Regions from separate parts of the Homo sapiens genome. Here all the other regions are linked to region 1. Evidence: fine-mapped expression QTL. A gene starts in region 1. Each other region holds a variant in brackets. All regions are shown on one strand. Distances are from middle to middle.

What was found.
Region 2: its variant is fine-mapped to the expression of ATP9A in caudate (GTEx, PIP above 0.99). The same link has a PIP of 0.9 or more in substantia nigra.
Region 3: its variant is fine-mapped to the expression of ATP9A in whole blood (INTERVAL, PIP above 0.99).
Region 4: its variant is fine-mapped to the expression of ATP9A in whole blood (TOPMed, PIP 0.96).

The regions. Positions count from the first base shown.
Region 1 is chr20:51,764,927-51,773,032 of GRCh38, forward strand. ATP9A (ATPase phospholipid transporting 9A (putative)) reads right to left here and starts at 3,464. Exons shown (of 28, transcript NM_006045.3): 1 at 3,376-3,464. The coding sequence starts at 3,443.
Region 2 is chr20:51,727,223-51,735,328 of GRCh38, forward strand. ATP9A (ATPase phospholipid transporting 9A (putative)) reads right to left here. Exons shown (of 28, transcript NM_006045.3): 2 at 2,612-2,756. It also overlaps the pseudogene RPL29P35. Among named protein-coding and RNA genes, the nearest start is that of ATP9A, 37 kb to the right of the region's middle. The variant A/G (reference allele first, on the strand shown) is at 4,389.
Region 3 is chr20:51,592,780-51,600,885 of GRCh38, forward strand. ATP9A (ATPase phospholipid transporting 9A (putative)) reads right to left here. Exons shown (of 28, transcript NM_006045.3): 28 at 3,735-8,106. Among named protein-coding and RNA genes, the nearest start is that of NFATC2, 54 kb to the left of the region's middle. The variant G/A (reference allele first, on the strand shown) is at 4,627.
Region 4 is chr20:51,639,772-51,647,877 of GRCh38, forward strand. All of the region lies in intron 14 of ATP9A (ATPase phospholipid transporting 9A (putative)), which reads right to left. Among named protein-coding and RNA genes, the nearest start is that of NFATC2, 100 kb to the left of the region's middle. The variant T/A (reference allele first, on the strand shown) is at 3,737.

The sequences.
Region 1 (8,106 bases):
GCCAGGCTGGTCTCGAACTCCTGACCTCGAGTGATCCGCCCACCTTGGCCTCCCAAAGTGCTGGGATTACAGGCTTGAACCACCACATCTGGCCCCTAAAATGGGAGAATTAACTCCAAAAACTCACATGGTTGTTGTAAGGATTAAAACAGCCCTATTTATCTCAAGTGTCCAGCAGACAGCCTGACCCATTACATATTACTTTTTTCTTCCTTTAACCACCCACCCACTTTAGCCCTCACGCTGCCATCCCCCAGCCCCTAGTTCTATTTCAGGAAGCTCCTCCATCTCTCTGTGCTTCTCAAGAGTTTCTAAACTTCAGGATTCCACCTTGATGTTGCTACTCCTGAAAATGCAGATTATATACAAGAGCATTTACGCAAATGCACAGCAACCCTGATACACAATTTGAATCCAAATCCATGTCACTGTTTAAGAAATAGATTGGCCAGACACAGTGGCTCACATCTGTAATCACAGCACTTTGGGAGGCCAAGGTGGGTGGATCACCTGAGGTAAGGAGTTCGAGACCAGCCTGACCAACATGGAGAAACCCCATCTGTACTAAAAATACAAAATTTGCCGGGCATGGTGCATGCCTGTAATCCCAGCTACTCAGGAGGCTGATTCAAGGAGAATCGCTTGAACCTGGAATGCGGACGTTGCAGTGAGCCGAGATCGTGCCAGCCTTGGCAACAAGAGTGAAGCTACATCTCAAAAAAAAAAAACAGAATTAGATTAGTTCCAGGCCAAGCACGGTGGCTCACGTCTGTAATCCCAGCACTTTCGGAGGCCAAGGCAGGTGGATCACCTGAGGTCAGGAGTTCAAGACCAGCCTGGCCAACATGGTGAAACAACTCTCTCTACTAAAAATACAAAGATTAGCCGGGAGTGGTAGTGGGCACCTGTAATCCCAGCTACTTGGGAAGCTGAGGCAGAAGAATCGCTTGAACCCAGGAGGCAGAGGTTGCAGTGGGCCAAGACCAAGGCATTGCACTCCAGGCAACAAGAGTGAAACTACATCGTCTCAAAAAAAAAGAAAGATTAGTTCCAAAGCTGGTAAATTCTAAAGGGGCTGTGATGCTCCATTCCAACGCAACCTAGAAAACTTACTTTTAAATAAAATTATCTGCACCACTCCCTCTGGCTCTCCATATGAACGGCTCATGTTTCTATCACGCTAATGATCACTTTTGAACAATATTTGCATTTTTCTTTCATGTACTGACTCAAAAGTTCTCAACTCTGACTGCATGTTAAAATCATCAGGGGAGCTTATTAAAATATATAGATAGAAACCCAGGTCCCACCCTAAATTCTTATTTCAAAGGTCTAGAATGAATCAGAAAAGGCTAGTTAAGTTTCCCTGGTGATTGCAATGAACAGCCAGGGTCAGGACACCCACACCTGTTGGGCAGGTCTTCTTTAATTCATCCTTGCATCCCCATCAGCTGGAGTGGCTCCTGCACATAGTAGGCGTCTCATAATTGCTCATGGCACAAATTAATAACCACTGGATTTTAGACTCCACTGATCATATTAATTCATCACAGTATTTACGGAGGATGTACGATGTACCAGGCACTGTTCCAGGCATAGTGTTCAAGTCAATTGTCATCATTAAAACGAAGGAGGCCGGGCGCGGTGACTCACGCCTGTAATCCCAGCACTTTGGAAGGCCGAGGTGGGTGGATCACGAGGTCAGGAGTTCAAGACAAGCCTGGCCAAGATGGTGAAACCCCCGTCTCTACTAAAAATACAAAAACTAGTCAGGCGTGGTGTCGGGCGCCTGTAATCCCAGCTACTCGGGAGGTTGAGGCAGAGAATTGCTTGAACCCGGGAGGCGGAGGTTGCAGTGAGCCGAGATCTCGCCACAGCACTCCAGCGTGGGCAACAGAGGGAGACTCCGTCTCAATAATAATAATAATACTAATAATAATAAACGCAAAACAGAGAAGGGAGGAGTGAGGGAACTATCTTTGGGTCAGACAATCCGGAGTTCAATCTCCATTTTGCAGTCTTCCCTATAGCCCTTAACCTCCGTAACCTCCAGTTTCCTCCTCTGGGTAATATCAGTGAGGCCTCTTCTTCGGAGGATTCAGGAAGCCAGGGACAAAGACCCCACAAAATGGCCGCCAGCACCATTCTTTTTTTTTTTTTTTTTAATTCCACTGACACCTGGTGAAGCCACCCTTATGGTTCACTCCACCCGCCGCGTCTCCTGTTCCGAGCAACTGACGCTGCAATAAGCGGCCGCCACCGGGAAATGCCCAGAGAGGACCAGACGCCCGAGGAAGGGCGGAGCAGAGCGGCCGCAGGCCCCGCCCAACACCGCGCTCAGCCTCCCGCGGGCTCCAGCCTCACCTGCGCGGCCTGTGGAGCTGCACATCTCCAGGCCCCGCCCCCCAGAACTCTGATTGGCGGGTCTAGGCGGGGGCCGGGAAATCTGCATTTGCACCAGCGCCCACCCCCGTCCTTCCCACCCCCGCCCCTCACGCCCAGGTAAGTCTATGGCAGGCGATACGAGAGCCCCGCAAACCTCAACGCGTCACGCTGCCATCCTCCGAACAGGAAGACGGCGAGGCGCAAAATACCAACCCGTCCCCTCTTCCCAAATGCAGAAAAACCCTTGCCTGTTCCGCGCCTAAGCTGCCCTCGGGGTCTCCTACTGCGGGAAGGGCACAGCAGGTGGCAGCCCCTGTCCCAGCCGTGGGATTCCTTCCCCGAAATTGTGGGGGGAGAACACAAGGGGTAGTGTCACCAAGCGGCCAGTAGGAGACCCTCCCACCCTCCTGCGACTGCTGGTTCGGGTCCACCCCGGGCGGAGGGGGAAGGGGCCACCGGAGCGCAGGTGGTCTCGGCGCAGCCTCCTGGGGCTGGGACCCAGGGGCGCTGATGGGGTACCCCGAGGCGTAGGCCGCGCCCCCCTAAAAGCTGAGCATATCTGGGCTCCCGAGTAATGCTCCAAGCGCAGAGCTCGGTGTGACACTGACCAAATTGTTACCTCAGATATTAATTACGGACAGATATTAATTACGGAACAATAAAACGGTGAGAAAGCACGGCTGATCCGAATTCCGCGAGTGTGTAAACAGCACTGGGGCGGGCCCGGCTTCTCGGGGTTTCTAAAGGAAGGTGGGCAAGGAGGCCCAGGCAACCGGGCGCTCGAACCCCAAAGGGCCGGCATCAGGCTAGGTGCCGCCCGGGGCTGAAGCGCAGGGACCCCCTCCCCACCTCCCCGCCTCCCCAGCCCTGCCCCAGGCTCATGGCGCCGGGCGCGGCGCGCGGCCAACCTGTCAGGCCCGGCCAGGCTGGCCCGAGCGCCGGGCTCCGGGAGGCGCGGACAAAGGAAAACACGGGCCCAGGCCCACTCACCCGGCGCGGGGCCTGCTGTCCATCCGCTTCTTCTGGCGCACCGGCTGCAGCGGGATGTTGTCCGTCATGTCGGCGGCGCCGCCCGCCTTGGCCGCCGCGCCCCCCGCGCCGCCTGGGCCGCCGCCCGGTCCGGCCTCCGCGCCGCCGCCCGCCGGCGCCGCGCCGCCCCGGGGGAGGAGGCGGCGGCAGCGGGCGGGCCGGGCCCGCAGCGAGGGGGCGAGCTCGCGAGCGCCGGGCCACGCGCGGAGCGCCCGCGCGGCCCGACCGACGGACACGGGCGCACCATGGGCCCGAGCTCCGCGCTGCGCCCGCTCGCTCCGCGCCGCGCCGCGCCTGCCACGGGGGGCGGCCGGGCCGTGTCCGCGCCGCCGCGACCGCTGCAGTGTCCCCGCCCCCGGCCCGCGCCCGCGCCCCCCACGCGCGCCCACCCGGCCACGCGCCCCCCGCCCACGCCCGCCGTGCGCGCACCCTGCCACCGCACCCCCCGCAAAATCCCACATTCACAATCACATCCCAGCCCTATACACGCGCGCTGTGACACTCATCCCCACCAATATCTGACATGCACAATCACACGGGCACCCGGCCACGCTCACCCCATCAGTCAGTCATTCTCACTCACTCTTGCACCAACGTGCATATTCACGCCCAGGCCCTACACACACACCTGCCACTGCTCACTGCCTGCAACATCTAACATTCACAATCACATGTGAGTCCTGCACACACACATAACACTCTCACCCTCCTGTTGGTCACCATCATCCATGCACCCAGTTTCTCAAGCCTCACACCCATGTGCCTGCAGAAATCACAGTCACACAGGGACCCTCAGCTTATCAGACTCCTTCACCCTCTGACCTTCACCATCCTCACCCTCATTCTCTATCTGGATTCTGGGAACTCACCATGACACACACGCACCTGCCTCTTTCATCCAAACACCCTTCAATAGTCTGAACACCCTCATTCTCACACCAGCCACTTTCTTGGGCTTGCACATGGGCCCCACTCTCAGGCCTCAGACAGTCACCCTGCATTACCTGTCACTGTGATTCACGGTCTCACACACACACCTATCTCCACCGCAGCCCACATCCACACTCACTTCCACACCCTCCCACACAGTGTCTGGGACCCATGAACTTTTCAAAGGCCTGATAAAGTTATGAGAGCAGGAAAAAAAAAACAGAGGGAAGGAACAAAGTGAGGGAGTTTAAAAATCAATATGTAACTAAAGAGCCTGAAATTGTAATAATACCATATAAACTAATCTAAAGCTGACTTTTACATAGTTACATCTAATGACTGATCATGTTGGACGCCGTTTCTTTTTTTTCTTTTTGAAACAGAATCTCCCTCTGTCGCCCAGGCTGGAGTGCAGTGGCAAAATCTCAGCTCACTGCAATCTCTGCCTCCCAGGTTGAAGCAATTCTCCTGCCTCAGCTACCCGGGTAGCTGGGGTTATACATGTGCCTGGCTAATTTTTGTAGTTTTAGTAGAGATGGGGTTTCACCATGTTGGCCAGACTGGTCTTGAACTCCTGGCCTCATGTGATCTGTCCACCTCGGCCTCCCAAAGTGCTGGGCTCTTCCTTGGCATTTGCTAAATGCCATAGAGATTTAATTGGGATGAAGGAAGAGCATCCGGCCCAGTCCACCTTTCCAACTCTCACCAGAAGCCTTTCCCTGCTCCCACGGGCCACTGCGCTTGGCCCTTTTATTTTGTTTTATTTGTTTGTTTTTTTAAGTTAGTGCTAACTGCCAGCAAGTGGATGCCTTTTGTGTTTGCTGTCACACAGGATGGAGCCACCAAATATCCCAGTGTCTGAGGTGGATCTCAAACCAAGAAGTGTGACTTATCTCATGCACCAGAGAAGTTCCTCAAGAAAAGAAGCATGTCATTAGTAATTGCTGCATTGCACATTTGGAGAGGAAATAGCATTCTCCAGCCAACAGGCCTGGTGTGCTTTGCTTCCTGCTGTCTCTTCTACATCTAAAATGATGCTTCGTACATAGCATGGCACAAGTTGGCACTCAATAAAGGCTTCTTGCATGGAAGAAGGATAAACACCCTGACACACCAATTATGGCATCAGTGTGGGTCCCACCATCTCCCATCTGCTTTGCTAGACATCCCCCTTTCAAACTCCACACCCTCTTCTCAACCCCACTACTACACAGGGTACAAGAGAAGACCAAGGAGGCCGGGCGCGGTGGCTCACACCTCTAATCCTGACACTTTGGGAGGCCGAGGTGGGCGGATCACTTGAGGTCAGGCATTCGAGATCAGCCTGGCCAACATGGTGAAACCCCATCTCTACTAAAAAACAAAAATACAAAAATATATTAAAATCACCCGGGCACGGCCGGGCGCAGTGGCTCACGCCTGTAATCCCAGCACTTTGGGAGGCCAATGCGGGCAGATCACGGGTCAGGAGTTCGAGACCAGCCTGGCCAACATAGTGAAATCCTGTCTCTACTAAAAATACAAAAACTTAGCCACGCATGGTGGCAGGCACTGGTAATCTCAGCTACTCAGGAGGTTAAGGCAGGAGAATTGCTTGAACCCGGGAGGCGGAGGTTGCAGTGAGCCGAGATCATGCCATTGCACTCTAGCCCAGGCAACAGTGCGAGACTCTGTTTCAAAAAAAAAAAAAAAAGAAAGAAAAGGTTAGCTATTAAAAGTCCTACTTCTATGATATGAATATTCATAGTTTTCCCTAATTCAAGAATGAACACAACAGCATTATCAATGCTCATCCCTGAAAGATTCCAGGTGGGTTTTTAAAATACAATTTAATTAGCAGGATTTTTTGTTTTAGTAGTTTTCCATTTATAGAAAACATAAGCAATTAGCACAGAGAGTTTCATATGTCCCCATCCTATATCCATGTCCCCAGTCATGGGGACAGTTTCCCTTATTAACATTTTGCGGTACATCCAGGTGGATCTTAAATATTTCATTGCTTTTGTTTTGTCAATACTCTCTACTTTTTCTCTAGCAAAACGTGTTGCTTTTGCAATAATTTTTTCTTTAAATAAGTTTTTAAAAGATGAAAGAGCCCACTATTAACCCTCAAAGGTACTAACACTCTCATATGGAAAGAGAGGGGGAAATTGTAGGTGGTTTTTTGTTTTGTTTTGTTTTGTTTTTGCCTTTTTACTTTCCAAATTTTCTTTCTTTATTTATTTATTTTTATTTTTGAGATGGAGTCTCACTCTGTCGCCCAGGCTGGAGTGCAGTGGCACAATCTCAGCTCACTGCAGGCTCCGCCTCCCGGGTTCACGCCATTTTCCTGCCTCAGCCTCCCCAGTAGCTGGGACTACAGGCGCCCATCACCATGCCCAGCTAATTTTTGTATTTTTAGCAAAGACAGGGTTTCACCATGTTAGCCAGGATGGTCTCGATCTCCTGACCTCCTGATCCACCTGCCTCGGCCTCCCAAAGTGCTGGGATTACAGGCGTGAGCCACTGCAACCGGCCTTTACTTTCCAAATTTTCTTTAGTACGCTTTCATAATCAGAGGAGAAAATACATTTAAAAAAACTCCTTTTTGTTTTTATTCTTATTATTTTTTGAGACAGAGTCTCACTCTGCTGCCCAGGCTGGATTGCAGTGGCATGATCTCAGCTCACTGCAACCTCCGCCTCCCAGGTTCAAGCGATTCTCCCGCCTCAGCCTCCTGAGTAGCTGGGGCTACAGGCACACACCAACATGACCGGCTAATTTTTATATTTTTAGTAGAGAAGAGGTTTCACCATGTTAGCCAGGCTGGTCTCAAACTCCTGACCTCAGGTGATCCACCTGCCTCGCCTCCCTAAGTACTGGGATTACAGGCATGAGCCACTGCGCATGGCCGTTTTTATTTTAAGAGACAGAGTCTTGCTCTATTGTAGCTGGGACTACAGGTGTGCACTGCATGCCAGGCTAATTTATTTTATTTTTTATAGAGACAAGGTCTCACTATGTTGCCCAGGCTGGCCTTGACCTCCTGGGCTCAAGCCATCCTCCTGCCTTGACCTCCTAGTGTCCTGGGATTACAGGTGTGAGCCACTGCACCAGGCCGAAACTCCTTTTCAGCAAGGTAATCCCTCAGGAAGGGACGCACCTGCAGGCTTAAATCTCATCTTGAGAGAGAATCAGATGCCTGCTTGGGACAAGCGAGACACCCAAGGGATCACCAGAGCGGTGCCAGGGTCTAGGAGAGGGGCAAGGCTGGGGGAAGTGATGAGATGTGAGAGGTTAATCTGAGGCCCCCTTCTGGGTATACAGCAACCCCTCTTCCTGACACAGCACTACCTTCTGCCCAGGAATAGTCACCTCATGGTTCTGCTTCCTCAGGAAAAGCCCCTTGACAATCCTCTCCATCCAATAGGTCCTGGGTACAGTGCACCCCTGACTCCTAGGTATGTGGAGTGGAAAGGTCCTGGAGGGATAAGCCAATCTAGTCCAACTTCTACTTTCCAGAAATCAGAGAGACTGTGGCCCAAAGAGGTCATGTCACATGCCTCTATGTCACATGCCATCCATGCCCGATGGATGACAGGCTGGAGCCGGAATATACCTTGAAACTCTCATCTTGGCCCACCATGAAGCCTTATGTTCATAGACCTCCAAGCCCACTCCTGCTTTATTATTTATTTGTTTGTTTGTTTGTTTGTTTGGAGATGGAGTCTCACTCTGTTGCCCAGGCTGAAGTGCAGTGGCATGATCTCAGCTCACTACAAC
Region 2 (8,106 bases), 38 kb before region 1:
TGAGATCGCGCCACTACACTCCAGCCTGGGTGACAGAGCAAAACTCCATCTCAAAAAAAAAAAAAGTTACGTCCACAGCATGTCCAGACGTGGTGGTACATGCCTGTAATCCCAGCACTTTGGGAGGGCGAGGTTGGCAAATGGCTTGAGCTCAAGAGTTCGAGACCAGCCATGGCAACATGGTAAAACCCCATCACTACAAAAAATACAAATATTAGCCAAGAGTGGTGGCATGCACCCGTAGTCCCAGCTACTCAGGAGGCTGAAGTGGGAGGATCAATTGAGCCCAGGAGGCGGAGATAGTAGTGAGCCAAGATCATGTCACTGCACTCTCGCCTGGGTGACAATGAGTCCCCCACCTCAAAAAATAAAAAGTGAAACCCCATCTCAAAAAATAAAATAAAAAATAATTTTTAAAAAGTTAAATGGCCGCACACAGTGGCTCACGCCTGTAATCCCAGCAATTTGGGAAGCCGAGGCGGATGAATCACGAGGTCAGGAGTTCAAGACCAGCCTGGCCAACATGATGAAACCCTGTCTCTACTAAAAAATAAAAAAAGTAGCCGGACATGGGAGCACGTGCCTGTAATCCCAGCTACTCAGGAGGCTGAGGCAGGAGAATCACTTAAACCCGGGAGGTGGAGGTTGCAGTGAGCCGAGATCACGCCATTGTGCACCAGCCTGGGCAACAGAGGGAGACTCAGTCTCAAAAAAAAAAAAAAAGCTATGTCCACAACATGACCTCAACTCCATAAAATAACACAGTCAAATCCTCCCCTGGGGAGCAGCTAGGTGCTAGTGTGGTTCTGACCATTGGCATGCACCCGAGAGTCAGACTGAGACCACATGACTAGTTTGGGCCAATAGGTAATGAATGGACGTACTGTGTCTCGTTGAGGCTAAGGCAGCTAAGAACCATTGGTGCCTCTTGAGCCACTCTGGTGACTTTGGTGGCCACATAGTCCAGGTGCCATACCCAGGAAATGGAGGAGTGTGGCCCAGTCTGCATCAGACTTTCCATGAATGAGAATAAACCTATTCCTCACTTGAGGTACTGAGAGTTGGGGGGAGTTGAGGAAACCAGCAATGAATATAGTCAAAATCACCCTTAAAAACATTCACGGCTGGGAGCGCTGGCTCGTGCCTATAATCCCAGCACTTTGGGAGGCCAAGGTGGGTGGATCACCTGAGGTCAGGAGTTCGAGACCAGCCTGGCCAACATGGTGAAACTCCGTCTCTACTAAAAATACAAAAAATTAGCCGGGCGTGGTGGCGGGTGCCTGTGATCCTAGCTACTTGGGAGGCTGAGGCAGGAGAATTGCTTGAACCCAGGAGGCGGAGGTTGCAGTGAGCCAAGATGGCTCACTGTGCTCCAGCCTGGGCGACAGAGCGAGACTCCATCTCAAAAAAAAAAAAAAAAATTCAAATTTCTGTTTGGGAGGCTGAGAGAGGAGCATGGCTTGAGCCCAGGAGTCTGAGGCTGCAATAAGCTCTGATCATGCCACTGCACTCCAGCCCAGGCAAGACAGTGAGATCTGGTCTCTTAAAAAACAAATTCCAATTGACCTTGAACTCGACTATATAATAGATTTGTGCCTCTGCACTATCACTCAATATCTAACACTACCATTATGTTCCTTTCTGCATTGGAGCTGATTGCTACTGCTGCTTCTCAAAGTCAACTGGTGTGTGTTTGGAGGCAGTGCTGGATAAAAATAGATATTTAATTTATGTGCATGTTGGGGAGAAGGTTTGCTGAGTACATGTCCACAGATTTGTGTAAGTTAATGTGGAAGTGTTATGCCACCAGAAACATTTATTATTAGCAAAAATACTAATGAAAATTCTCTCTATAGATGGTAAGATTAAAATGCATCTTTATTTTTTCTCCTCTAAGCTATTATCTCCCAACTTGCCAATATTGACTACATGTGTCATGATGGGGGGAAATTTAAGCACTGCTGACATTCTTTTCTGCTGTTTTGGTCATAATGCTAGGTCCCCAGAATGTCTTTTTCATTCTTAGGCTTAGCACACCAAATACATGTGAAGTTACTCTAACTGAGCAGGTGGGGTCACAGCCTTGCAGAGAGAAGGCAGGTGCCCCCTCCACCCCACCCCACCTCCAACCCCGCCACTACCCAGTGCTGAACCCAGGGAAGATGAACAACCAGGGACTAAGGTGGCACAGAAAAGTCACTGACATCTGCCACAGGGAACTCAGTCTTTTAAGACTGTACCGGCGGGCAAGGTGGCTCACATCTGTAATCCCAGCACTTTGAGAGGCTGAAGTGGGTGGATCACCTGATGTCAGGAGTTCAAGACCGGCCTGGCCAACATGGTGAAACCCCATCTCTACTAAAAATACAAAAATTAGCCACGCGTGGTGGCACATGCCTATAATCCCAGCTACTCAGGAGGATGAGGCAGGAGAATCGCTTGAACTCAGGAGGCGGAGGTTGCAGTGAGCCAAGATTGCGCCACTGCACTCCAGCCTGGGCGACAGAGTAAGACTCTGTCTAAAAAATAACATGACATGACATAACATCTGTACCAATGCATGTATTTGTGATGGAAAAAAGAAAAGAGCACGGTCCCTGCCTGCACGTACCCCAGGAAGAAAGGTGAAGAAATTGTACTTCTGATTGTTGATGACATTCCGAGGATACCTCTGGTCTCTCTTCTCGGGGTGCCCCAGCCAGACAGTGCGGGGCCTGGCCTCCCCTCCACCGCAGCATCTCAGCCACTCGCAGCACCTGTGGGAAAGAAACCCACGCATCAAGGCCACGCCCACGCATCGAGGCTGTGCTCATGTCTGCCCACTCTTCGCAGATTGCTTTTCTCTACAGCATCTTCTCTGGCTCAGGACCACAGCCATATTTGAGGCTTCATCTTTCAGTGAAACAAGAAAACAGAGCAGAAGCTCCCACGAAGCTGTGGTCCAAATAAAAGATGCTTTGTCCTGGCCAGGCGCGGTGGCTCACACCTGTAATCCCAGCACTTTGGGAGGCCGAGGTGGGCAGACCACAAGGTCAAGAGATCGAGACCATCCTGGCTGACATGGTGAAATCTCGTCTGTACTAAAAAATACAAAAATTAGCCGGGCGTGTTGGCACGTGCCTGTAATCCCAGCTACTCAGGAGGCTGAGGGAGGATAATCGCTTGAAACCAAGAGGCGGAGGTCGCAGTGAGCCAAGATCGCACCACTGCACTCCAGCCTGGCGAAAGACTGAGACTTCGTCTCAAAAAATAAGTAAATAAATAAATAAAAAGATGCTTTGTCCCCAATCCCAAATTATTTACAGTCTTGCATTGTTAAGCGACAAGGATACGCTCTAAGAAACGCATTAGGCCATTTCGGCACTGTGGGAACATTCTAGAGTGACTTACACAACCTGGCTGCCATCACCTGCTATGCACTAGGCTGAATGGTACAGCCTATTATTCCTCAGCTACAAACCTGCACAGCATGAGACTGTACTGAATAAGACAGGCAGTGGTAGCACAATGGTAAGTACTTGTGTCTCTAAACATATCTACATATAGAAAAAATACAGTAAAAATACAGTATTCTAATCTAATGGGGCCACTGTTATATATGTGGTCTGTGGTTGGTTGATATGTCATTATGTGGCAAAAGACTGTGTTCCAAAAAGTAAGATTCGGCCAGCCATGGTGGTTTATGCCTATAATCCCAACACTTTGGGAGGCCAAAGCAAGAAGATCATTTGGGGCCAGGAGATTGACACCAGCCTGGGCAACAAAGTGAGACTCTCATCTCTATTAAAAATTAAATTTTTTAGCCAGGCACGGTGGCTCATGCCTGTAATCCCAGCACTTTGGGAGGCCGAGGCAGGCGGATCATGAGGTCAGGAGTTCGAGATCAGCCTGACCAAGATGGTGAAACCCCGTCTCTGCTGAAGATACAAAAATTAGCCAGGCATGGTGGCAGGCGCCTATAATCCCAGCTACTCGGGAGGCTGAGGCAGGAGAATCGCTTGAACCCAGTAGGCGGAGGTTGCAGTGAGCTATTGCCACTGCACTCCAGCCTGGGCAACAGAGCGAGACTCCGTCTCAAATAAATAAATAAATAAAAATAATAATAATTTTTTAAAGGTAGGCTTTATTTTAGAATAAAAGGATTTAAGAAAATAAATATATCACAGTAAGTACTATTATTACATCTATGCTTCACAGATAAGAGAGAAGCTTGGGCCAGGCGAGGTGGCTCACGCCTGTAATCCCAGCACTTTGGGAGGCCGAGGCAGGCGGAGGTACCTGAGGTCAGGAGTTCAAGACCAGCCTGGCCAACATGGTGAAACCCCATCTCTACTAGAATTACAAAAATTAGCTGGGTGTGGTGGCAGACGCCTATAATCCCAGCTACC[A/G]GGGAGGCTGAGGCAGGAGAATAGCTTGAACTCGGGAGGCGGAGGTTGCAGTGAGCCAAGATCATGCCACTGCACTCCAGCCTGGGTGACAGAGGGAGACTCCATCTCCAAAAAAAAAAAAGAGAAGCTTGGAACAGCTAAAGCACCCAAGTTTGCAGAGACGTAAGAAACAGCTGGGTCTGGCCTTGAACTGTGTCAGCCTTATTCCAAAGCCTAGTGTCTTTTCCCCACCCCATGCTGTCACAGCTGCTAGTTCCACCAAGATTGCTATATAAAGGAAAAGGGGGAGCGGGGGAATCTCCTCTCCACCCCCAGCTTTCCTTTTCAGCAACACATTAGAGGAGCAAGCCACAAAGATGATGTCTCAGAGCTCGATATAACCTGGAGAGAAGCCAGCACACCAGCTGTCGGCAGAACGACCCCAAGGGCGCCCCCAACGTGGTTTTCCCAAGAGGACAGCTCATTGGTGCCAACATCAGCACCCCCACTCCCAGGTCACCCTCCCACGAGGCAAAGGAACACCTAGGAATCTGGGCTGCTCTGGCAAAACGAGGTGCTCTGAGGACCCCAAAAACGGCAGCTTGTCCTTCAGGAGAGCTTTATTAAACAAGGCACTCTGAGAAGTACAAGCTCCCGAAAAACTGCAACAAAAACGTCCCTCGCTGGACCGCTCACCTCACCGCCCCAGCACTCAAAGGCTGAGGCAAGGTCCCAGCCCTGCCAGCCCCCTGGGATGTCGCCAGCTAAGGTGAAACCAACAACTCACATATTACTCGTCCACCACAGACCTTCCTTCTTCCCTTGTTCCCACAGAGCAGGTCCTGGTGGGTGCTGGGGTACAGAGCTAAGAAAACACAGCCTCTGTCCATCAGGACCTTAAAGATGAGCGAGCCAGCAGGCTGCCTGCTCAGATGCTCAAAATTTCCATGATGAAACACAATGCTCTTTCTTAAAAATAGCATCCTCATTCCAGTAAACCAGCATTCATGGTGGAGTGTGGCTCTGCTAAGGTTTCACTTCTAGTAACTCATTCTTGTTGGCCCCTTTCTAAGTTGTCCAAAAGCCAGAGACACACACAGAAGCCTCAAGGAGTCCAACCACTCTCGCCACTCCTGTTTCCAAGTGCAAATCACCCATGCTGGCCATCAGTGGACACTCACTGAATACATTTTGAATGAATGGAGGAAGCAAAGAGGGAGGGGGAGAGGAAAAGGATGGGAGAAAAAGGGGAAGGAGGAGAGGAGCGAAGGAAGATTCATTTGACAGAAAGCGCATCACCGTATTTGCAGAAACCTTACTGGATGGTGAAGACTGACTCCTCTAAGAGCCAGTAATTCTCTCCCTATCCTATAATAATCTAGTAATGACTGTCTTCATAGTTGTACAGTTCTAATGAAAGATGAAAAATGAATTTAAGAGAATCACAAACTGTCAGGTTGACTGTTTATACAAAATTTTTGTTCTGTTTTGTTTTAGCAGAAGTTTCCAGACATCAAGCTATCCGGTTACAGTTATGCTATTTATTAATTACTTAGCCTATCACCTTTGTGCATATGCACAAAGTACAGGTCACTCACTGCACTATGGGAGCAAGAGATTGGAAACAAATCTAACCATTTGTTTCAGTCCCTTCCCGCTACTATAACAAAATACCTTAGACTATGTAATTTACAAACAAGGAAATGTATTGCTCATAGTTCTGGAGGCTGCAAAGTCCAAGATGGAGACACCAATAGATTCAGTATCTGGTGAGGCCCATTCCTCATGCCTTTTTTTTTTTCCAGACAGAGTCTAATTCTGTTGCCCAGGCTAGAGAGCAGTGGCACGATCTCCACTCACTGCAACCTCCACCTACTGGGTTCAAGCCATTCTCCTGCCTTAGCCTCCTGAGTAGCTGGGATTACAGGCGTGCGCCACCACACCCAGCTAATTTTTGTATTTTTAAGTAGAGACGGGGTTTCACCATGTTGGTCAGACTGGTCTTGAACTCCTGACCTCGTGATCCGCCTGCCTTGGCCTCCCAAAGTGCTGGGATTACAGGCGTGAGCCACTGTACCTGGCCTTTTTTTTTTAATTTTTTTTTAAATTAAAAAATCTGTATTACCCAGGCTGGTGTACAGTGGTACAATCACAGCTCACTGCAGCCTCAAACTCCTGGGCTGAAGCAATCCTCTTACCTTAGCCTCCCAAGTATATGGGACTAAAGGCATGTGCCACCATGCCTGGCTAATTTTTTAATATTTTGTAGAGTGAGGGTCTCACTATGGTGTCCAGGGTGGTCTCAAACACCTGGCCTCAAGCCATCCTCCCACCTTTGCCTCCCAAAGTGGTGGGGTTACAAGTTGTGCCACCATGCCTGGCCCCTCATGCCTTTTTCTTTTCTTAAGATGGGGTCTCACTCTGTCGCCCAGGATGGAGTGTAGTGGCATGATCTCAGCTTGTTGCAGCCTCAACCTTCCAAGCTCAACCAATCCTCCCACCTCTCAGCCTCCCAAGTAGCTGGGACTATAGGCAAGCACAATCACACCTGGCTAATTTTTGTAATTTTTTTTTTGTAGAGATGGGGTTTCACCATGCAGCCCAGGCTGGTCTCAAATTCCTGGGCTCAAGTGATCTGCCCACCTCATCTTCCAAAGTGTTGGGATTACAGGTGTGAGCCACCCCACTCAGCCCCTCCTGCCTCTTTTATAAGGGAATTCATGAGGATTCTGCCTTCATGACCCAATCACCTCCTCAGTGCCCAACTTCATACAACTATCAGATTTAGGGAGAAGGGATACATTCAGACCATAACACCGTTCATCAAAGGAAGACTGGTTAAATAAACAGGGATAAGCCATAAATGAAATTCCTAACCCCCTCTAAAGCATAAGGTCCTCTTCCGGTTCCAGGCACTTCGGGAGCTGTGGGTTCGGTGCAGACATGTCCAAGTCCACATACAACCACACACAACCAGGCCCGAAAATGGAACAGAAATGGCATCAAGAAATCCCAGTCCACGTGTATCCCATTTTGGTTTTTTTAAGAAGAAATTTAAAAAAGAAAGAAAGAAAGAAAGGAAGAAATCCCAGTCACAAAGATATGACTTTCTTAAGTGGGTGAACCCCAAGTTCCTGAGGAACATGCACTTTGCCAAGAAGTACAAGAAGAAGTGCATGAAGAAGATGCAGGCCAACACCACCAAGGCCCTGAGTGCACACGCCGAGGCTATCAAGACCCTTGTAAAGTCCAAAGAGGTTAAGCCCAAGATCTCAAAGGGTGTCGGCAGCAAAATTCATCGACTTGCCTACATTGCCCACTCCAAACTTGGGACGCATGCTCATGCCCGCACTGCTAAGGGTCTTAGGCTGTGCTGGCCAAAGGCCAAGAATCAAACCAAGGCCCAGACTGCAGCTCCAGCTTCAGTTCCAGCTCAGGCTCTCAAAAGTGCCCACGCCCCTAAAAGGCTTCAGAGTAGAGATCTCCATCTGCAAACATGAGGACAGAAGGATTGGTATGACCTCTGGGCTGCCGTCTGCATGGGGTTGGTATCTTCCTGTGCTATTTGTACAAATAAGCCTGAGGCAGGGGGAAACAAACAAAAAAAAGAATAAAATAGCGCTGTGTGCACAAAATGACCCAATCTGCAAAATACACAAAACCGAAAAGCAAGGGGCTAAAAGGTGTGTGTAGGATGCTATTCTTTGCACGAAAGCAAGAGGACATACATGCAGGGAGA
Region 3 (8,106 bases), 170 kb before region 1:
ACTGCAACCACAATGTCACTTCCCCAGATCTCTCTGAATGACGCTCTGCCTTTGCAAACTTGCCCAGGGTCCTGTGGCCTTAGCCATTGTTCAAAGTTAGAAATGAACCTCCCCCCAGTATGCTAGGCTGGCCTGGGCATCCCTGACTAGAGAACATACCCCTCATGGGGCAGCCCAAGGAGAAAGCAAAGGGACTCCTCAAGAATCCATTGACTGGCTGGGCACGGTGGCTCATGCCTGTAATTCCAACACTTCGGGAGGCCAAGGCAGGCAGATCACTTGAGATCAGGAGTTTGAGACCAGCCTGGCCAACATGGTGAAACCCCGCCTCTACTAAAAATACCAAAATTAGCCAGGTGTGGTGGCACGTGCCTGTAATCCCAGCTACTCGGGAGGTTGAAGCAGGAGAATTGCTTGAACCTGGGAGGCAGAGGTTGCAGTGACCCAAGATCGTGCCACTGCACTCCAGCCTGGGTGACAATGCAAGACTCTGTCTCAAAAAAAAAAAAAAAAAAAAGAATCCATTTACTTGGGGATCTTGGAGAATAGAATTGGCCAATCATTAAAAACTTTTTTTTTTACATTAAATCCACTAATGGAATAGAAAGCAGAATTTCCTTGAGATTAAAAAAAAAAACCCCACAAGGCATGAGAAAATTGAGGGGGACGGTGTGGCTGGCACCCACATGGATAGGTTGGGGGGCATCACTACCAGCTTCTGCTCTTACAGGGTCCAGAGGTGCACAGCACCCTCCTTCTCATCCTGCAGCCCTCTGCTCCAGTGGGCCCATCTCTGACTCCCAGCACTTTCCCCACCTTTATTCCTACCTGGTTGTCATCCTCTGCCTAACCCTTAGGCTGCTTTATCTTAGGAAGCTTTCTCTCCACCTGATGTTAGTCTTAATCTGTTTATTGTCTTTCACACACATACACACACACACACACAGAGTGTAATCACTATGAGGGCAGACACTACGCTTGTCTGGTTCCCTGCCACGCCTCCAGCCCCAAGAACAGTGCCTAACACATAGGAAGTGCTCAGCAAATATTTGATCAATGAAGGAATAAAAATGTCAGCATATTCTGCACATCTCCTACCCATCCCCCAACACTTTTTCCATTCCTTCTGGACTCTGCAATCTTTCTCAAAGGAAATAAAAAATAGTCCTGGGCTTATCTGGACCTGATCTGATCAAAGAAAAAAAATGTATTTCTTTTAAATCTCTTGAAAACAAACACCACAGGCTTAGAACACCAAGTTCTTAATGTAAGCAAACAGAACCTGCTGGCTGAATTCTAAGAAATGAGCCCTGGCTTGGTATCAAGCATAGGTTGTGGGGCCGATGACTTCACATGTGACTCAGTTACCCCAAATTTCAGGGGGAATCCATTTCAAAATCAAAACGTCAACATGGAAAGTGGAGGGTGGCTTTGTTTGGGCATTCCTGCAAGAAGGCAGGCTTTCTGAAAAGATGCTATGTTATAGATAACTCATCCACAAAAGGGGGGCAGGAGGGATGGGGAGAAACCCCAGGATTGGGTGTATTTCTCGGCTAAGGCTTTGGATGCAAACTGATCCGGGAATGCGTGATCCTCCAAAAATCCACCAGCCCCCAAAGTGCTTGAGTTACCCCTCCGACCACAGCCACATGGAAAATGAAATTAAATCCCACGGAAAGATTTGACTTTTTTAACATTATGCAATGTTTGGGTGAAAAAAGGGGGGTGGGGAGAGGGAGATCAGAAAAAAATTCATCTTTTTCCCAGAGTTTAGCAGAGCTATTTCTAGCTTTTAATGATACATTTCACCATCACTTCATGGGTAGTTTTGAGAGGCGCGAAGGCGGGACCGGTTCTGTTATGTAACCCATTTAAAGTAGGAAATTAGCAAGTCCTGAATGAATTCTGTCACTGTGCTCCCACTTCTGGAAAATTTGGAGCGACTACAGTTCTATTTTGAGGTGAGCAAATCCATCATTTATAGACCTCCTCACAAATACCACAGGGCTTCATGTCACCCTGAAAAGTTTCATAACAAAAACACTAAAAGTACTTGGGGTGTTGGTACATTTCGTCTCAAAACCTTATTAGACTGAACAGTGAATTGGCAAAGCTTCCTACTTGCCAATTATTCAAAAATGCAAATATCCAAGAGCAAATAAATATTCATCTCTCACCCTCCCTGCCTTTTTTTTTTCCTTTTTTTTTTTTTTAACTAAGTCCAGCAAAATATTCTGGTCAACAACATGAAAAGAAATGTCTGTTTTTCACGGAGCCTCTGGCCATGAAATAAATTCTGAAGCTATGAAAGCACAGTCTTGAAACTCAGGGCAGTTGGGCACGTGGGGTCCGGCTGGTTGTGGAAAACAGGAAACAGCAATGTCTTTCAGTCCTCAAGTTCCCCCTAGCGGCTCCGGCGGAGGAGTGTCCGCACATGGACGGAAGTTCACTGCAGGCAAATGCAGAGGCTTAAGGTCGTGCAGGGATAGCACACGTTTAAGGGAAAGCATGGTCGGTCCCTACCTTTGAAACCACATACCTTCCTTTTGCTGCTGTCATGAGATAACACAACTAAGTTACAATTATCTTTCTAATCTATATACTGAGGATGGCCCTTTCCATTGAGAACCAAAAAGAGGGAACCAGCAGCTCACACTGCAGACAGCCACTAATTACACCATTTGGTATAGTATTTGGTATAGTAGGCGGAGGCATAACTTGCTTCCTGAGACACACGAGCTTATACCTCCGGGCCCTTTTACAAATACAGACAGACAAATGGTACAGCTGACACGTGCCAATTAAATTAGGGTTTCTCTGGCTGGGCGTATGGGCTCATGCCTGTAATCCCAGCACTTTGGGAGGCTGAGGCAGGCAGATCACCTGAGGCCTGGAGTTCGAGACCAGCCTGGCCAACATGGTGAAACCCCGTCTCTACTAAAGATACAAAACTTAACCGGGCGTGGTGGCAGGCCCAGCTACTCAGAAGGCTGAGGCAGGAGAATCGCCTGAACCTGGGAGGCGGAGGTTGCAGTGAGCCAAGATTGCACCACTGCATTGCAGCCTAGATAACAGGGCAAGACTCCACCTCGAAAAAAAATAATTAGGGTTTCTCAATGTTGGCACTTTTGACACTTTGGGCTCTGTTGTGGGGGCCACCCTGTGAATCACAGGGTGTTCGGCAGCATCTCTTGCTTGTAGCACTCCTCTTCCCCGAGTTGTAACAACTGAAAAGGTCTTCATACCGCCACGTGTCCCCCAAGGGACAAAAATCACCCAATTGATTTCAACTACTTCCTACACAAAAGCTTTTTTTGTTTTGTTTTGTTTTGAGACGGAGTCTTGCTCTGTTGCCCAGGCAGGAGTGCAGTGGCACAATCACGACTCACTGCAGCCTCGACCTCCGAGGCTCAGGTGATTGTTCCGCCTCAGCTTCCCAAGTCGCTGGGACCACAGGCTTGAGCCAGTACACCCAGCTCGTTTTCTTGTATTTTTTGTACATGAGTTTCACCACGTTACCCAGGCTGGTCTCAAACTCTGGGCTCAAGCAATCCTCCTGCCTTGGTCTCCCAAAGCTGGGATTACAGACATGAGCCACTGCGCCGGGCCTTAAAAATTTTTTCTGCCTAAAACTTAACTGACTGTTCCTATATGTTCCATCCCTCGATAAAAAAAAAAAAAAAAGATTCCAGTCATCGAGGACCGTGTATAGAAATACAATATGAAGCTTATGGTTTTCATCTTATTTTCCATTTATATCTATCACCTTTTGAAATTCTGACACGTCTGGGATGGACAATAGTACAAAATAATAAATAACATGCATTGATTTGGGGTTTTTTTTGCCAAAATCAAAATAATTTTCTGAACTGGAAAGAGTTTTCTTTACATTTCATGTACCATGAAATAAAGAAAAAATAGGAGCGTTATAATAAAAAGTCCTCATTTTGATACCAGAATTCATGTTTCTGTACAAATTAAAATAATCCCCCAAGGCAGAACGTACACAAGCTTTATTGGGCAACAGCAACGAGCCACGCTGGCAAACAATGAAAGTAGAGTCGCTCAGAAACACGAAAGATCATATGTGTGTCATCACAGCATCGAGAATTTAAATCATCTGGAAGTTCCTGCTAAATTAAAGCATACTGTGCCAGAGCTCCCCTCTAATCAAAAAACGCTGTCCTGGTGAAAATTTGCAATGAGGATTACAGAGAGAGAGATCAACCAATGAGGAAATCACAGACTCTTACATGAGTTTACAGTTAACCCCACTGCAACAAAATAATAAATTAGCCATAATTTGTTTTTTTTGCAAATACCATGCCCCCCACCTGACCCCACAAACACAACAGTCACTGACATGGCCCAGCTATATTAACAGACTGCGCCTCAAACCATGCTGTGGCGGAGAAGACAGATTCACGGGTAATGCCGCTTTGGCCTGAGAAGATGCTTCGGAGCTCCAGGTGGAGGAGCTGCTCACGCTGCAGGATGCTTTGCAGGTTCATTCAAAACCAAATTTTTTTCCAAGAAGAACTGGACATAATTCATGGGAATATTTTAAGTATATATAAGTGGCAAAAAAGCTGTACATTAAAAGAAGGGGGAGAAATAAAATGTGTT[G/A]TATTTACAAAGCTCTTTGTATATTTTTTTAAATGAAAACAAAGCTGGGAGTGATAGAATTTTAATGCAATGAAAACCAAATAATTCTTCAAAAAACTTTAGATGACATCATTCTCTCGCTCTTTCACACACACACACACCCCCCACACACTTCAAACATACAGAAAAGGTTAAAGATAAAAATAGCTGATAGGTGTTTAAGTAGGATGGAGCAGAAGAATGTACATGTCCCATTTGCAATTTTGGCAAAGGTTTAAAATGCTGCCCTAAAGGCACGCACGCATGCCCAGCCTACCCCAGTAAAAACAAGACAAAGTATAAAAAGAAAAGTCTGGCGGGGGGTGGGGGAGGCATTAGCATATCAATTTCCAATGAGCACAAAATTCAAAATACATTAAAAAGTAGCATGGCTTACATTTTCAGCAGAGAAGAAACTGAGGAAATGTTCATAAAGAGACAATGATTTTTAAGATTTACTGTCACAAAAAAAAAAGGGTTTCACTTCAGGGGAGTGGAACTGGGATGGGAATTTTACAATGCTAGTTCCAGCACGTGGTCTAATGGCCCCAGGGGCTGGAAAAGGGAGGTCTGCTCCAACTTTAAGATGCGCCCTTGGGATGCCTTCCAAGCAGCTGGAGTTAGTGCCACCTGTCTCACCTGGCACCACAGGCAACACACATGTGCACACGCATGCTTTCAAAATGAGGATCAAAACTGTCCCACATAAGAAATTACTCAAGATGGAAAAACTAGTCTGGTGATTTTCTTAGAGAAAAAAAAAGAGAGACAAAAAGGAAGGGGTGGGGGGAGGGGAAGAAACCAAATAGATCCTGCTTCCCCCTGTCACACAACCATCATCAAAAGACATATGAACAATAATAAAATAGTAATAGAAGTTCTTACTCTGGCAGAAATAGCTAGTGTTGTCAGAGGGCGCAGGGAGCTGTGAGTTTTGCTTTCAGGAAAAGTGTTCAAACAGTGCTGACTGTGTACCTCAAGGCCCTCTGACCTCAAATTAAATTGGCTGTCAAAGACTTACGGCCCATGGAGCTCCCAGGTGACAGTGTCAATGGCGCTTTATGTAAGTTCTTTCCAGATTGATGAACCAAGAAAAAGGTCAACTGAATCCTTATGCTTAAGGTTTACAAACTCAGGAGAGTTTCTTGTATAGTAACTCTAGTTTCTTGTTTGCTTATTTCTTTGTCTTCCCCACCACAACTAAGATGACCTCCGAGAAGTACCCAGGCGCCCCTGGGGTTCTCTGCTGGGCTTACAGTCTGATTGTGCAGGTAAAGATCGTGTCCTCTCACCGGACTGCATCCTCCTGCCTTTGCGTCTCCAGTGTCTGAGAAGCACGGTGTGTGCATTCCTAGGTGTTCAGGGACCGTCCAGTGAATGGCGTCAGCCAGCTGCCCACTGATGGGATGGGCCAACGACGTGGCAGTTTGCACTTGAGTGTCGGTACTTCTCACCCTTGACCGCCTCCGCCCCAGTGCGGCTGAGACAACAGAGTAAAAAGGTTTGTGGAGAACACTGACGAGTACCTTCCACTTCCAACTATGGCTTCTTCAGCCCCTCCTGGGAGCATTCTCCCTTGAAGATGTCAATCAGTATCTTAAGCGTTGGCTTTAAAAGTCAACTTGTGCACCTCAATCAAAATTGAGAATTAAGGAAAAGGCCAGGGAGACCATCTTCATTCTGCTTCTGCTGGAAACCTCTAAAACTTTCTGACGAGGCTCCCACACGCCCTGCCTGCAGGAGCCAGCATCCCGAATCTCCGAGCAAAGCCAGGTACAGGGTTTGCAAAGTCTAAACAGGACTATCTTAAGACTTCCCAGCGTTACAGAGCCAGGTTCAGCATCTGCAAAGTCTAAATGGGACTATCTTAAGACTTGCCAGTGTTACAGACTGATTTCCAAGAAAACGGAGGCTTAAAAACTTCCAGCACAAATTTCTCCTCCACCTTTGAAAACACAGAAACTCACTCAATGAATACGTCAGATTTGCTCAATCTTTCTGAAATTTTTGGACAAAGATCCTATCCTTAACTATTCACTCAATACATCTTTTCTGCCGACCTTTTCCCTCTGGCAGAAATGGCTGAATCAGATAGAGAAAAGTACTGCAAAACTGCAGAATCATAAGACAAAATAGATGTGGTGTCAACAGCCAATTAACCAGTACCTGCAACGTAAAGTCATTCTAGAACATTTTAAAAGGACAACACAAAATACAAAAGCTTATCAAGAGTGCTCCAAAGGCAAGGGACTATCTGATCCTCGTGTCTCCAGCTCTCCAAGAGCAGGAGTTAGTAGGCATCAGAAACCAGGCTGTGATGTACATCTCTGAAGCACACAGAAGTAGCGCCAGGCAGAGGGTTTGAAGGATATGTATTCATCAAGAAGTAAACGCAAATCCAAGATCTCAACCACACTTGGCTCTTAAAGATCCACCAACTTAACCCTTATGGCATGCATATGTGGCTTCTGCAAGAAGCAACTTGAAAACCCAAGAATGCCTTGCTCTACCACGTCCCGCGACTGCAAACTCCCTTCCTCTGAAACAAGCAGCCACAGCTTTATAAGAAACATGCCGGCATGTAGTCCATCCTGGGAGGGGAGAAATCTTCACCACTGGCTGCCTTTCAGCAAGTTCCCCTTGAAATCTGCCGGCAGTGGAACAGATCCCAGATCCCAACGCTGTAGCTTGGGCGTCCTCCCACCAGGGGTTCCTTGTTCTGAAAGCTGCCACCAGTGTTGTTCCGAAAGATGCCTCTGCCTTTGTGGGGTCATCTTCCATTATGCCTCCTAACAGGAAACAGGCTTCTATGGAAGAGAAGAGTCCCAGCCCCCTGACCTTTCCGCTTTGGTCTTGGAGGATCTGAGTCACATCTGCCATGTTGCCTAAAGAATTAGTTGAGTCTCTTATCACACTGTCGACACATTTAGGGGCCATTCAGTGGCACGTTTCCTGCTAAAACAACTCTGCTGAAAATGTCTGAGGTCCTTCTCAAACAGCCACTGGCTTTGTGATTGTTACCAGGTCCCAATAAAGCGGGATCACACCTCTGAAATTCTTTTACGAGGTGGCAGGTGAAGTTAACTCACACACTATGGATGCTGAATCAGATCAAGGATAACAGATTGGACTTAGGACACTCTCTCTCCCTCTCCTCTCATTTACTGGTTACGATCCCAGGAATCCAGTGTAACCTGGATAAGCAGGGCTGGCTGGAGACGATACTGAGCATTTCCGAATGGAGATTATTGTGTGGATAACTTTTTACCAAATGTCACTGTCTTTTCCTCCCAAACCGACACCAAGAGCTTTCTATTTTTCTGACACCTCTTTGTAAGAGCAAGAAAGACATAAAGAGTACATACACATTAGGACTCTTTAAAAACACACACACACACACACACACACACACACACACACACAAGCCTTCTACAACCTTCAGCTACACAGAAACTTTTATCA
Region 4 (8,106 bases), 130 kb before region 1:
GAAAGAGATGGCACAGAATTAAGAGTGATTGTGACTGGGTGCAGTGGCTCAGGCCTGTAATCCCAGCACTTTGGGAGGCCGAGGTGGGTGGATCACCTGAGGTCAGGAGTTCGAGACCAGCCTGGCCAATATGGTGAAACCCCGTCTTTACTAAAAATACAAAAATTACCCAGGCATGGTGGCGGACACCTGTAATCCCAGCTACCCAGGAGGCTGAGGCAGGAGAATCGCTTGAACCCAGGAGGCAGAGATGCAGTGAGCTGAGATCACGCCATTGCACTCCAGCCTGGGTGACATAGCGAGACTCTGTCCCCGTCCCCACCCCACACCACCCCCACTCCGAAAAAAGGAGCAATTGGCACAATTACGGATCACTCCTGGAAGTATCTGCAACAAGCTAAACAATAAAAAAAAGAAGGAAGAGAATGCTGACTGACACAGCCCTTCGCCTTCAGGCTCTCCTTTCAGCCTCACACACTGCACTGGGGGAGTGTCTTCAGTGGTTCTCAACTGGGTGATTCTGTCCCCCAGGGGACCCGCGCCAACATCTGGGGGAATCTGTACTTGTCACAACTGGAAGGAGGTAATGCTGGTATCCAGTGGGCAGAGGCCAGGGATGCTACAAAACGTCCCGTAACACACAGGACATACCACACCAGAGACTGATCTGGCCCCAAATGTCAATAGTGCTGAGGTGGAGAACACGGGTCCACACAGAAGAGGAAACCAAGGCTCAGAGCAGTTAATGAAGTTGCCCAAGGTGACAGCGCTGGCATGTGGCAAAGCTAGGCCAGACTGGCACCTGGATCCGCCTGGTGTAAAGTTCCACAGCACACACTCTTCCCTTCCAAGAGTCATCGCACGGGTGTCAAGTCAGAACCTTCTCATGGCCTCAGCCAGACATACTCAGCTTAAGGTCAAAGGCATGAGGGTTGCAAACTCCAAGACAGGGGCCAGAGTGTTGATACAAATAGCAAAGAGGGCTGAGTGGGGGCTGTGGCAAGCAGGAGCCCAGCCCCAGCCAAAGGAGGCTGCTGCCACTATACACACAGGTGGCAGTTACTGCCCTGCAGGGACTAGGGCCAGGGTGGATGGAGCTTCCAGTTTCTCAAGAAAAAACAGAAATTTAGACTTCTCCCCGAGACGGCCTAACTTTTAAATGTAAGCAATTGGCCAGCTGCTGTGACTCACACTTTTAATCCCAGCACTTGGGGAGGTTGACGCAGGAGGATCACTTGAGCCCAGGAGTTTGAGACAAGCCTAGGTAACACAAGGAGACCCCATTTCTAAAAAAAAATTTTTTAATTATTAGGGTGGTGGCTCATGTCTGTAATCCCAGAACTTTGGGAGGCTGAGGCAGGCAGATCACCTGAGGTCAGGAGTTCGAGACTAGCCTGGTCAACATGGTGAAATCCAGTCTCTACTAAAAATACAAAAATTAGCCGGAGGTGGTGGCATGCGCCTGTAATCCCAGCTACTCAGGAGGCTGAGGGAGGCGAATCTCTTAAACCTGGAAGGTAGAAGTTGCAGTGAGTAGAGATCGCACCACCCCACTCCAGCCTGGACAACAGAGCGAGACTGTATCTCAAAAAAAAAATTATTATTAGGGTGGGGTGGTGCATGTGTGTCGTCTCAGTTACTCAAGAGGTTGAGGTGGGAGGATCACGATCTGGGAGGTGGAGGCTACAGTGAGCCATAATGGTGCCACACTACTCCCACCTGGACACAGAGTAAGACCCTGTCTCAAAAACATAATAATAGAGCCGGGCGCGGTGGCTCACACCTGTAATCTCAGCACTTTGGGAGGCTGAGGTGAGTGGATCACCTGAGGTCAGGAGTTCGAGACCAGCCTGGCCAACATAGTGAAACCCCATCTCTACTAAAAAAATAAAAATAAAAAAAATAAAAAATAAGCTGGGCGTGGTGGCAGGCGCCTGTAATCCCAGCTACCAGGGAGGCTGAGGCAGGAGAATCACTTGAACCCAGGAGGCAGAGGTTGCAGTGAGCCGAGGTCGCGCCATTGCACTCCAGTTTGGGCAACAAGAGCGAAACTCCATCTCAAAAAAAAAAAAAAAAAGATAAAAAACACTTCCAGTGGAGGTGATGCCTCCCAAGTACCCCTCTCCCTATCACCTACCTGCAGCCCCTGTCAACACCCTCCTAAAACCTGCCTCCCCTACTCCCCCTAAAGATTAAGCTTTATGAGAGGAAAGTGGGAGGGCCTTCCTTTTCTTCTTTCTTGATTTTTTGTAGACACTGTACCTTTGGACTTGGATGGGAATAAAGTGACAGCTTGTTTGGCATTGAAGTTGGAAGCCCTCCTGTATTCCTTTCCTGTTGTTGCTGTACCAAATTACTGTGCATCTGTTTTTTTTTGTTTGTTTTGTTTTGTTTTGTTTTCGTGATGGAGTCTCACTCTGTCACCTAGGCTGGAGTGCAGTGGTGCGATCTCGGCTCATTGCAACCTCCACCTCCCGGGTTCAAGCAATTCTCCTGCATCAGCCTCCCAAGTAGCTGGGATTACAGGCACCTGCCATCACATCTGCCTAATTTTTGTAATTTTAATAGAGATGGGATTTCACCATGTTGGCCAAATTGGTCTCAAACTCCTGATCTCAAGTGATCCACCTGCTTCAACCTCCCTCCCAAAGTGCTGGGATTACAGCCATGGGCCACCGCACCGGCCAGCATCTGTTTTAAAATGAAACAAATAGATTTTCTTACAGTTCTATAGATCAGGGGTGGACATGGGATGAGGGTCTCACTGAGACAGGATCAAGGTCGCTTGATCACCATTGCTGCATTGCTGCGGAGGCTCTAGGGGAGCACCTGTAGTCCCAGCTACTGGAGAGGCTGAGATGGGAAGATTGATTCAGCCTGGGAGGCAGAGGCTACAGTAAGCTGAAACCATGCCACTGCACTCTAGCCTGGGTGACTGAGTGAGACTCTGTCTCCAAAAAAAAAAAAAAAAAAAAAAAAAAAAAAAAAAAAAACCTGGCGTTCCTCTTGAGTTCCCATTCCTTTTACCAAGAGAGCTCTGCAGAAGCCACAAGGCAAAGGTATGCAGCTCTCCACCCCTAGTCCTTTCTTTCTCTGGAACCCCTGGATGTCATCTTAGCTGACCTGCTATACCCCGAAGAAGAGATCAAGCTGGAGCTCAAAACTGGGGTTCCAGTCCCCGCTCTGTCCCCAGCCCCCAGCCCCCACAGGCCTCTGCAAAATAAAGATCTTGGAGTAGATGACTATTTCTCATTTCTGCTCCAGCTCTGAAAATGTATCTTTATGCATCCTTAGTCTACTATGCTCAGATATCGAGTTCAGTTTCTGTTGCTTCTATTAACTAAATTTACATTAGCAAGAAATTATTTTTCAAGACTCTCCCTTATTTAAGTTCAAGTCATAATGAGTCAGCCAGCACTAACGAGCTTTGAGCTTTGACCAATGGAAGAAACTGTCATACTGACCTCTACCTTTCAAAGAAAGGACCAATCAAGTAGTGGGTTTTTCTGTTTTTATTTTGTGTTTTTTTAGTTTTAGTTTTTGGCTACTGGCCTGCCTAAGTCTTTGAAAACTCATTCACTTAGTTATTTGTTTAATTTAATGGCTATGCTATAGACTATGTTTATGTCCCCTAAAATTCATATGTTGAAACCTAATCCCCAATATGATAGCAGTTGGAGATGGGGCCTCTGGGAGGTGATTAAGTCCTGGGGGTGGGGTTCCTCATGAGTGGATG[T/A]GTGCCTTTATGAAAGAAACCCCAGAGAGGTCCCTCGCTCCTTCTGCTGCGAGAGACAGAGTGAAAAGAGGGCCTTTTATCAGCCAGGAAACAGGCCCTCACCAGACACCAAATCTGCCAGTATGCTGACACAGGACTTCCCAGCCTCCAGAACTAGGAGAAATAACTTCTGTTGTTTACAAGATACCCAGTTGATGGTATTTTGTTATAGCAGGCCATGTTATAGCAGGCCAAACAGACTAAGACACTCTAACTTTCAATATAGCCCTGTTTTGTCTGCTAACAATTGTCTTCCAAAGTTTAAAATTAACAAATCAGTAATGATTCGCATATATAAAATCATACCAGCCAGGTGCAGTAGCTCATGTCTGTAATCCCAGCACTTTGGGAGGCCGAGGCAGGAGGATCACCTGAGGTCAGGAGTTCAAGACCAGTCAGGTCAACATAGCGAAACCCCATCTCTACAAAAATACAAAAACTAGCCAGGCATGATGGCGGGTGCCTGTAATCCCAGCTACTCGGGAGTCTAAGGCAGGAGAATCGCGTGAACCCCAGAGGCAGAGGTTGCAGTGAGCTGGGATGGCGCCATTGCACTTCAGCCTGAGCAACAGAACAAGACTCTGCCTCAAAAATAAATAAATAAATAAAAACAAGAAAAAAAATTATCCCATCTGTCTATGTAAAAAAGCTTGGGTGCAGTGTAGAAATGTTTATAGAGTGATACACATGGAGAGAATTACTTCTAGCTTTTACTTCTAGCTTTTTTTTTTTTTTTTTTTTTTTGAGACGGAGTCTCACTCTTTTGCCCAGGTTGGAGTGCAGTGGCGCGATCTCGGCTCACTGCAAACTCCACCTCCTGGGTTCATGCCATTCTCCTGCCTCAGCCTCCCAAGTAGCTGGTGCCCGCCACCACACCCGGCTAATTTTTTTTTTTTTTGTATTTTTAGTAGAGATGGGTTTCACCATGTTAGTCAGGATGGTCTCGATCTCCTGACCTCATGATCTGCCCACCTCGGCCTCCCAAAGTGCTGGAATTACAGGCATGGGCCATGGCGCCCGGCCACTTCTAGCTTTCTATACCACCGAAATGTTTCAAACGTGTATACGCATTTCTTTTACGTTTAACTTTAATTAAATAAACATCCCAATACAATTCAAATATTACAAATACCTAGTTATGTACAAGCTAAAAAACCCTGACTAAATTTATATCCTTCCTTATATACCTATTAAGTAATAAAGTAAAAAAAAAAATTATTCTTCAGGTACTTTCAAACACTTATGGAAATGATTTTTTTATTCCTATTCTCAAGTAGCTATTACTTTGCCTGTTAATTGCCCTGAAAATATGTGAAAAGTCTGTGATACTGGGCTTCCAGGAGATACACTAATTCCCCAAAAGCCTGCTTTTAACTTTAATCGAGAAAGAATCTGTAACTCCAGAACCAGAAGTGGCTTCCAGGGCTGGGCAGCAGAATCGGCCAGCCCAGCATGCCCAGCTACAGACCCCACAGGTTCATGTTAGTGGAAACGTTGAATAACTATAACCTGAAATGATCAGAAATGACAAACGCTTTTGAGGAAAGATCAATTACAGCTGTATGTAAACATCTTTTAGCCTTGCTTTCTTCTAGAGCAAGCCTCTCAGTGGAGCTTAGGAGCCTACGACAGCTATATCTGTAGCCCTTCCCCACCCCTGGGATCCACCATCCTAATCAAAACCTCTGCAGGATCTGGCGAGGTGGCTCACACCTGTAATCCCAGCACTTTGGGAAGCCAAGGCAGGCAGATCACCTGAGGTCAGGAGTTTGAGACCAGCCTGGCCAACATGGTGAAACCCTGTCTCTACTAAAGATACAAAAATTAGCAGAGCGTGGTGGCAGGCACCTATAATCCCAGCTACTCGGGAGGCTGAGGCAGGAGAATGGCGTGAACCCGGGAGGTGGAGTTTGCAGTGAGCCAAGATCGCGCCTGGGCGACAGAGTGAGACTCCGTCTCAAAACAAACAAACAAACAAACAAAAACAAACAAACAAAAAAAAAACAAGAACGTTCTCAGTCTCTTTGGGAGCTGATTCCAACAGGATCTGAGCCCTGCAGGAAGTCTTTCCTTCTCCCCTTCCACTCTCCTCCATTTTAGCTTAAGTCAGTGTTAATTTAAAGCTACTTTCTAACAGGACACATAACATCCCCCAGAGTCCTACTCAGGGAGGACCAGTTTAGAAGTGGGGTACTCACTAACACCTCTCGATTGTGGGCCAGACAAACATCTGGGGAGTGAGCTGAGATAACTGCATTCCCTCCCAAAACAAAGTGATATACAACAAGGTTACTTAACATTCTGGCTTCTGTTCAAAGAAATCACCCCGTAACACACAAGATAGAGGATTTCAGGGGCTTGCATCTCACTGCTGTTAACAGCCTGAGTTAGGGTCTCAATAACTGCAGGTCAGGCCAGCAGCAGAAAACACAACCTCGTTAAGGTGGATGAATGAACAGATACATTAGACGCGAGCTGGATAAAATGCTGGAAAGGTAGAAAGGGCGGGGAGGGGATCCTGTCTCAGGAGTCTGTTGTGTTTTCTCCTTTGGGTGACAAGAAACCAAAGGGGCAGAGCCCACACCTTTCCCTGCCTCAAATGCCCATGTGAGGGACTCAGGCCAGAAACCATCCGTGAAAGGGCTTTTTCATCATTTCTTGGCCAGCAATAAACCACTTGTGACAAGTTTTTAAAGTTTTCTCTTTGTACCTGGGATGCTGTGCTTGGGAAATAAGCCAGATCACGCTCAGTAGCCTTGAATTCTTGTCAAAAGCAGGATACATACCAATCATCAGAGCACGTATGATACGAGGCGGGAATGTGACATCTGATAAAAGGGGTTATTTGGTGGCATTCAATAAGATAAATACTTAAGCTCACAAAGAGTCACCGGTCAGCCCTAATCCAGCCTTTCAAAATTATAAATCTATCCACAGACACACGGTTTTCTTCACTCAATACGAAAATACATTCAAATGCACCAGGCAGTGGTTGCAGGTTCAAATGCCGACAGGCGTTGGGAGAGAAGCAGACAGGCATAGGGCAGGGCCATGTGGGGGTCAGAAGAAAACTGAGGCAGCAGCTGCCCAGCTTGGCCAACCACTGCCAGGTAGAAGTTGGGCCTACTATTTCCAGACCTGATCTTTCTTGAGAAAAACTAATTTTGACATAAAATCAAGTGATTTTTAAATACTGCTTCAATTTTTTTTTTTAACATAGCATGAAACAAACAAAACACAGCCTGCTAGGAATCAGCGGAAGAGACAGTGGCATAAAAGGTCACTTCTTGCCAGGCGCAGTGGCTCACGCCTGTAATCCCAACACCTTGGGAGGCTGAAGTGGGCGGATCACCTGAGGTATGGAGCCTCAAGACCAGCCTGGCCAACATAGTGAAAACCCATCTCTACTAAAAAAAAGTGCAAAAAATTCACTGGGCCGGTGGGTGCCTGTAATTCCAGCTACTCGGGAGGCTGAGGCAGCGGAATTGCTTGAACCCAGGAGGAGGAAGTTGCAGTGAGCTGAGATCACACCACTGCACTCCAGCTTGGGCAACAGAGCAAGACTCCATCTCAAATAAATAAATAATAGTCACTTCTTGATCCAAATGTCTTGTACTTGAAATTGAACTTCCTATCACTTGACTGATAAAAATAAATACTTAAGAAGAAAGAACAGCATCATCTTCCTAAAATGTGATCATTAAGAAATGACTATTTATAGACCGGGCACGGTGGCTCATGCCTGTAATCCCAGCACTTTGTGGGGCCAAGGATGGTGGATCACTTGAGGTAAGGAGTTCAAGACCAGCCTAGCCAACATGGTGAAACCCTGTCTCTACTAAAAATACAAAAAAATTAGCCAGGCGTGGTGGCACACACCTGTAATCCCAGCTACTCGGGAGGCTGAGGCAGGAGAATCCCTTAAACCCGGGAGGCGGAGGTTGCAGTGAGCTGAGATTGTGGCACTGTACTCCAGCCTGAGCAACAGAGCAAGACTTCATCTCAAAACAAACAAATAAACTAAAAATACAAAATTAGCCAGGCATGGTGGCATATGCCTATAGTCCCAGCTACCCAGGAGGCTAAGGCAGGAGAATAGCTGGAACCCAGGAGGCGGAGGTTGCAGTGAGCCAAGATTGCACCTTTGCACTCCAGCCTGGGTAGCAGAGCGAGACTCTGTCTCAAAAAAGAAAAAGAAAAAAAAAAGAAATGACTATATATTAACTCTATTCTGAGCCAACACTAATATCACATGGGACAGAGCTTTTGCCTCTATGGCCCATGGATAAGCTAACACCAAGGGAGGCACATCTGACAGTTTCCTACAGTGT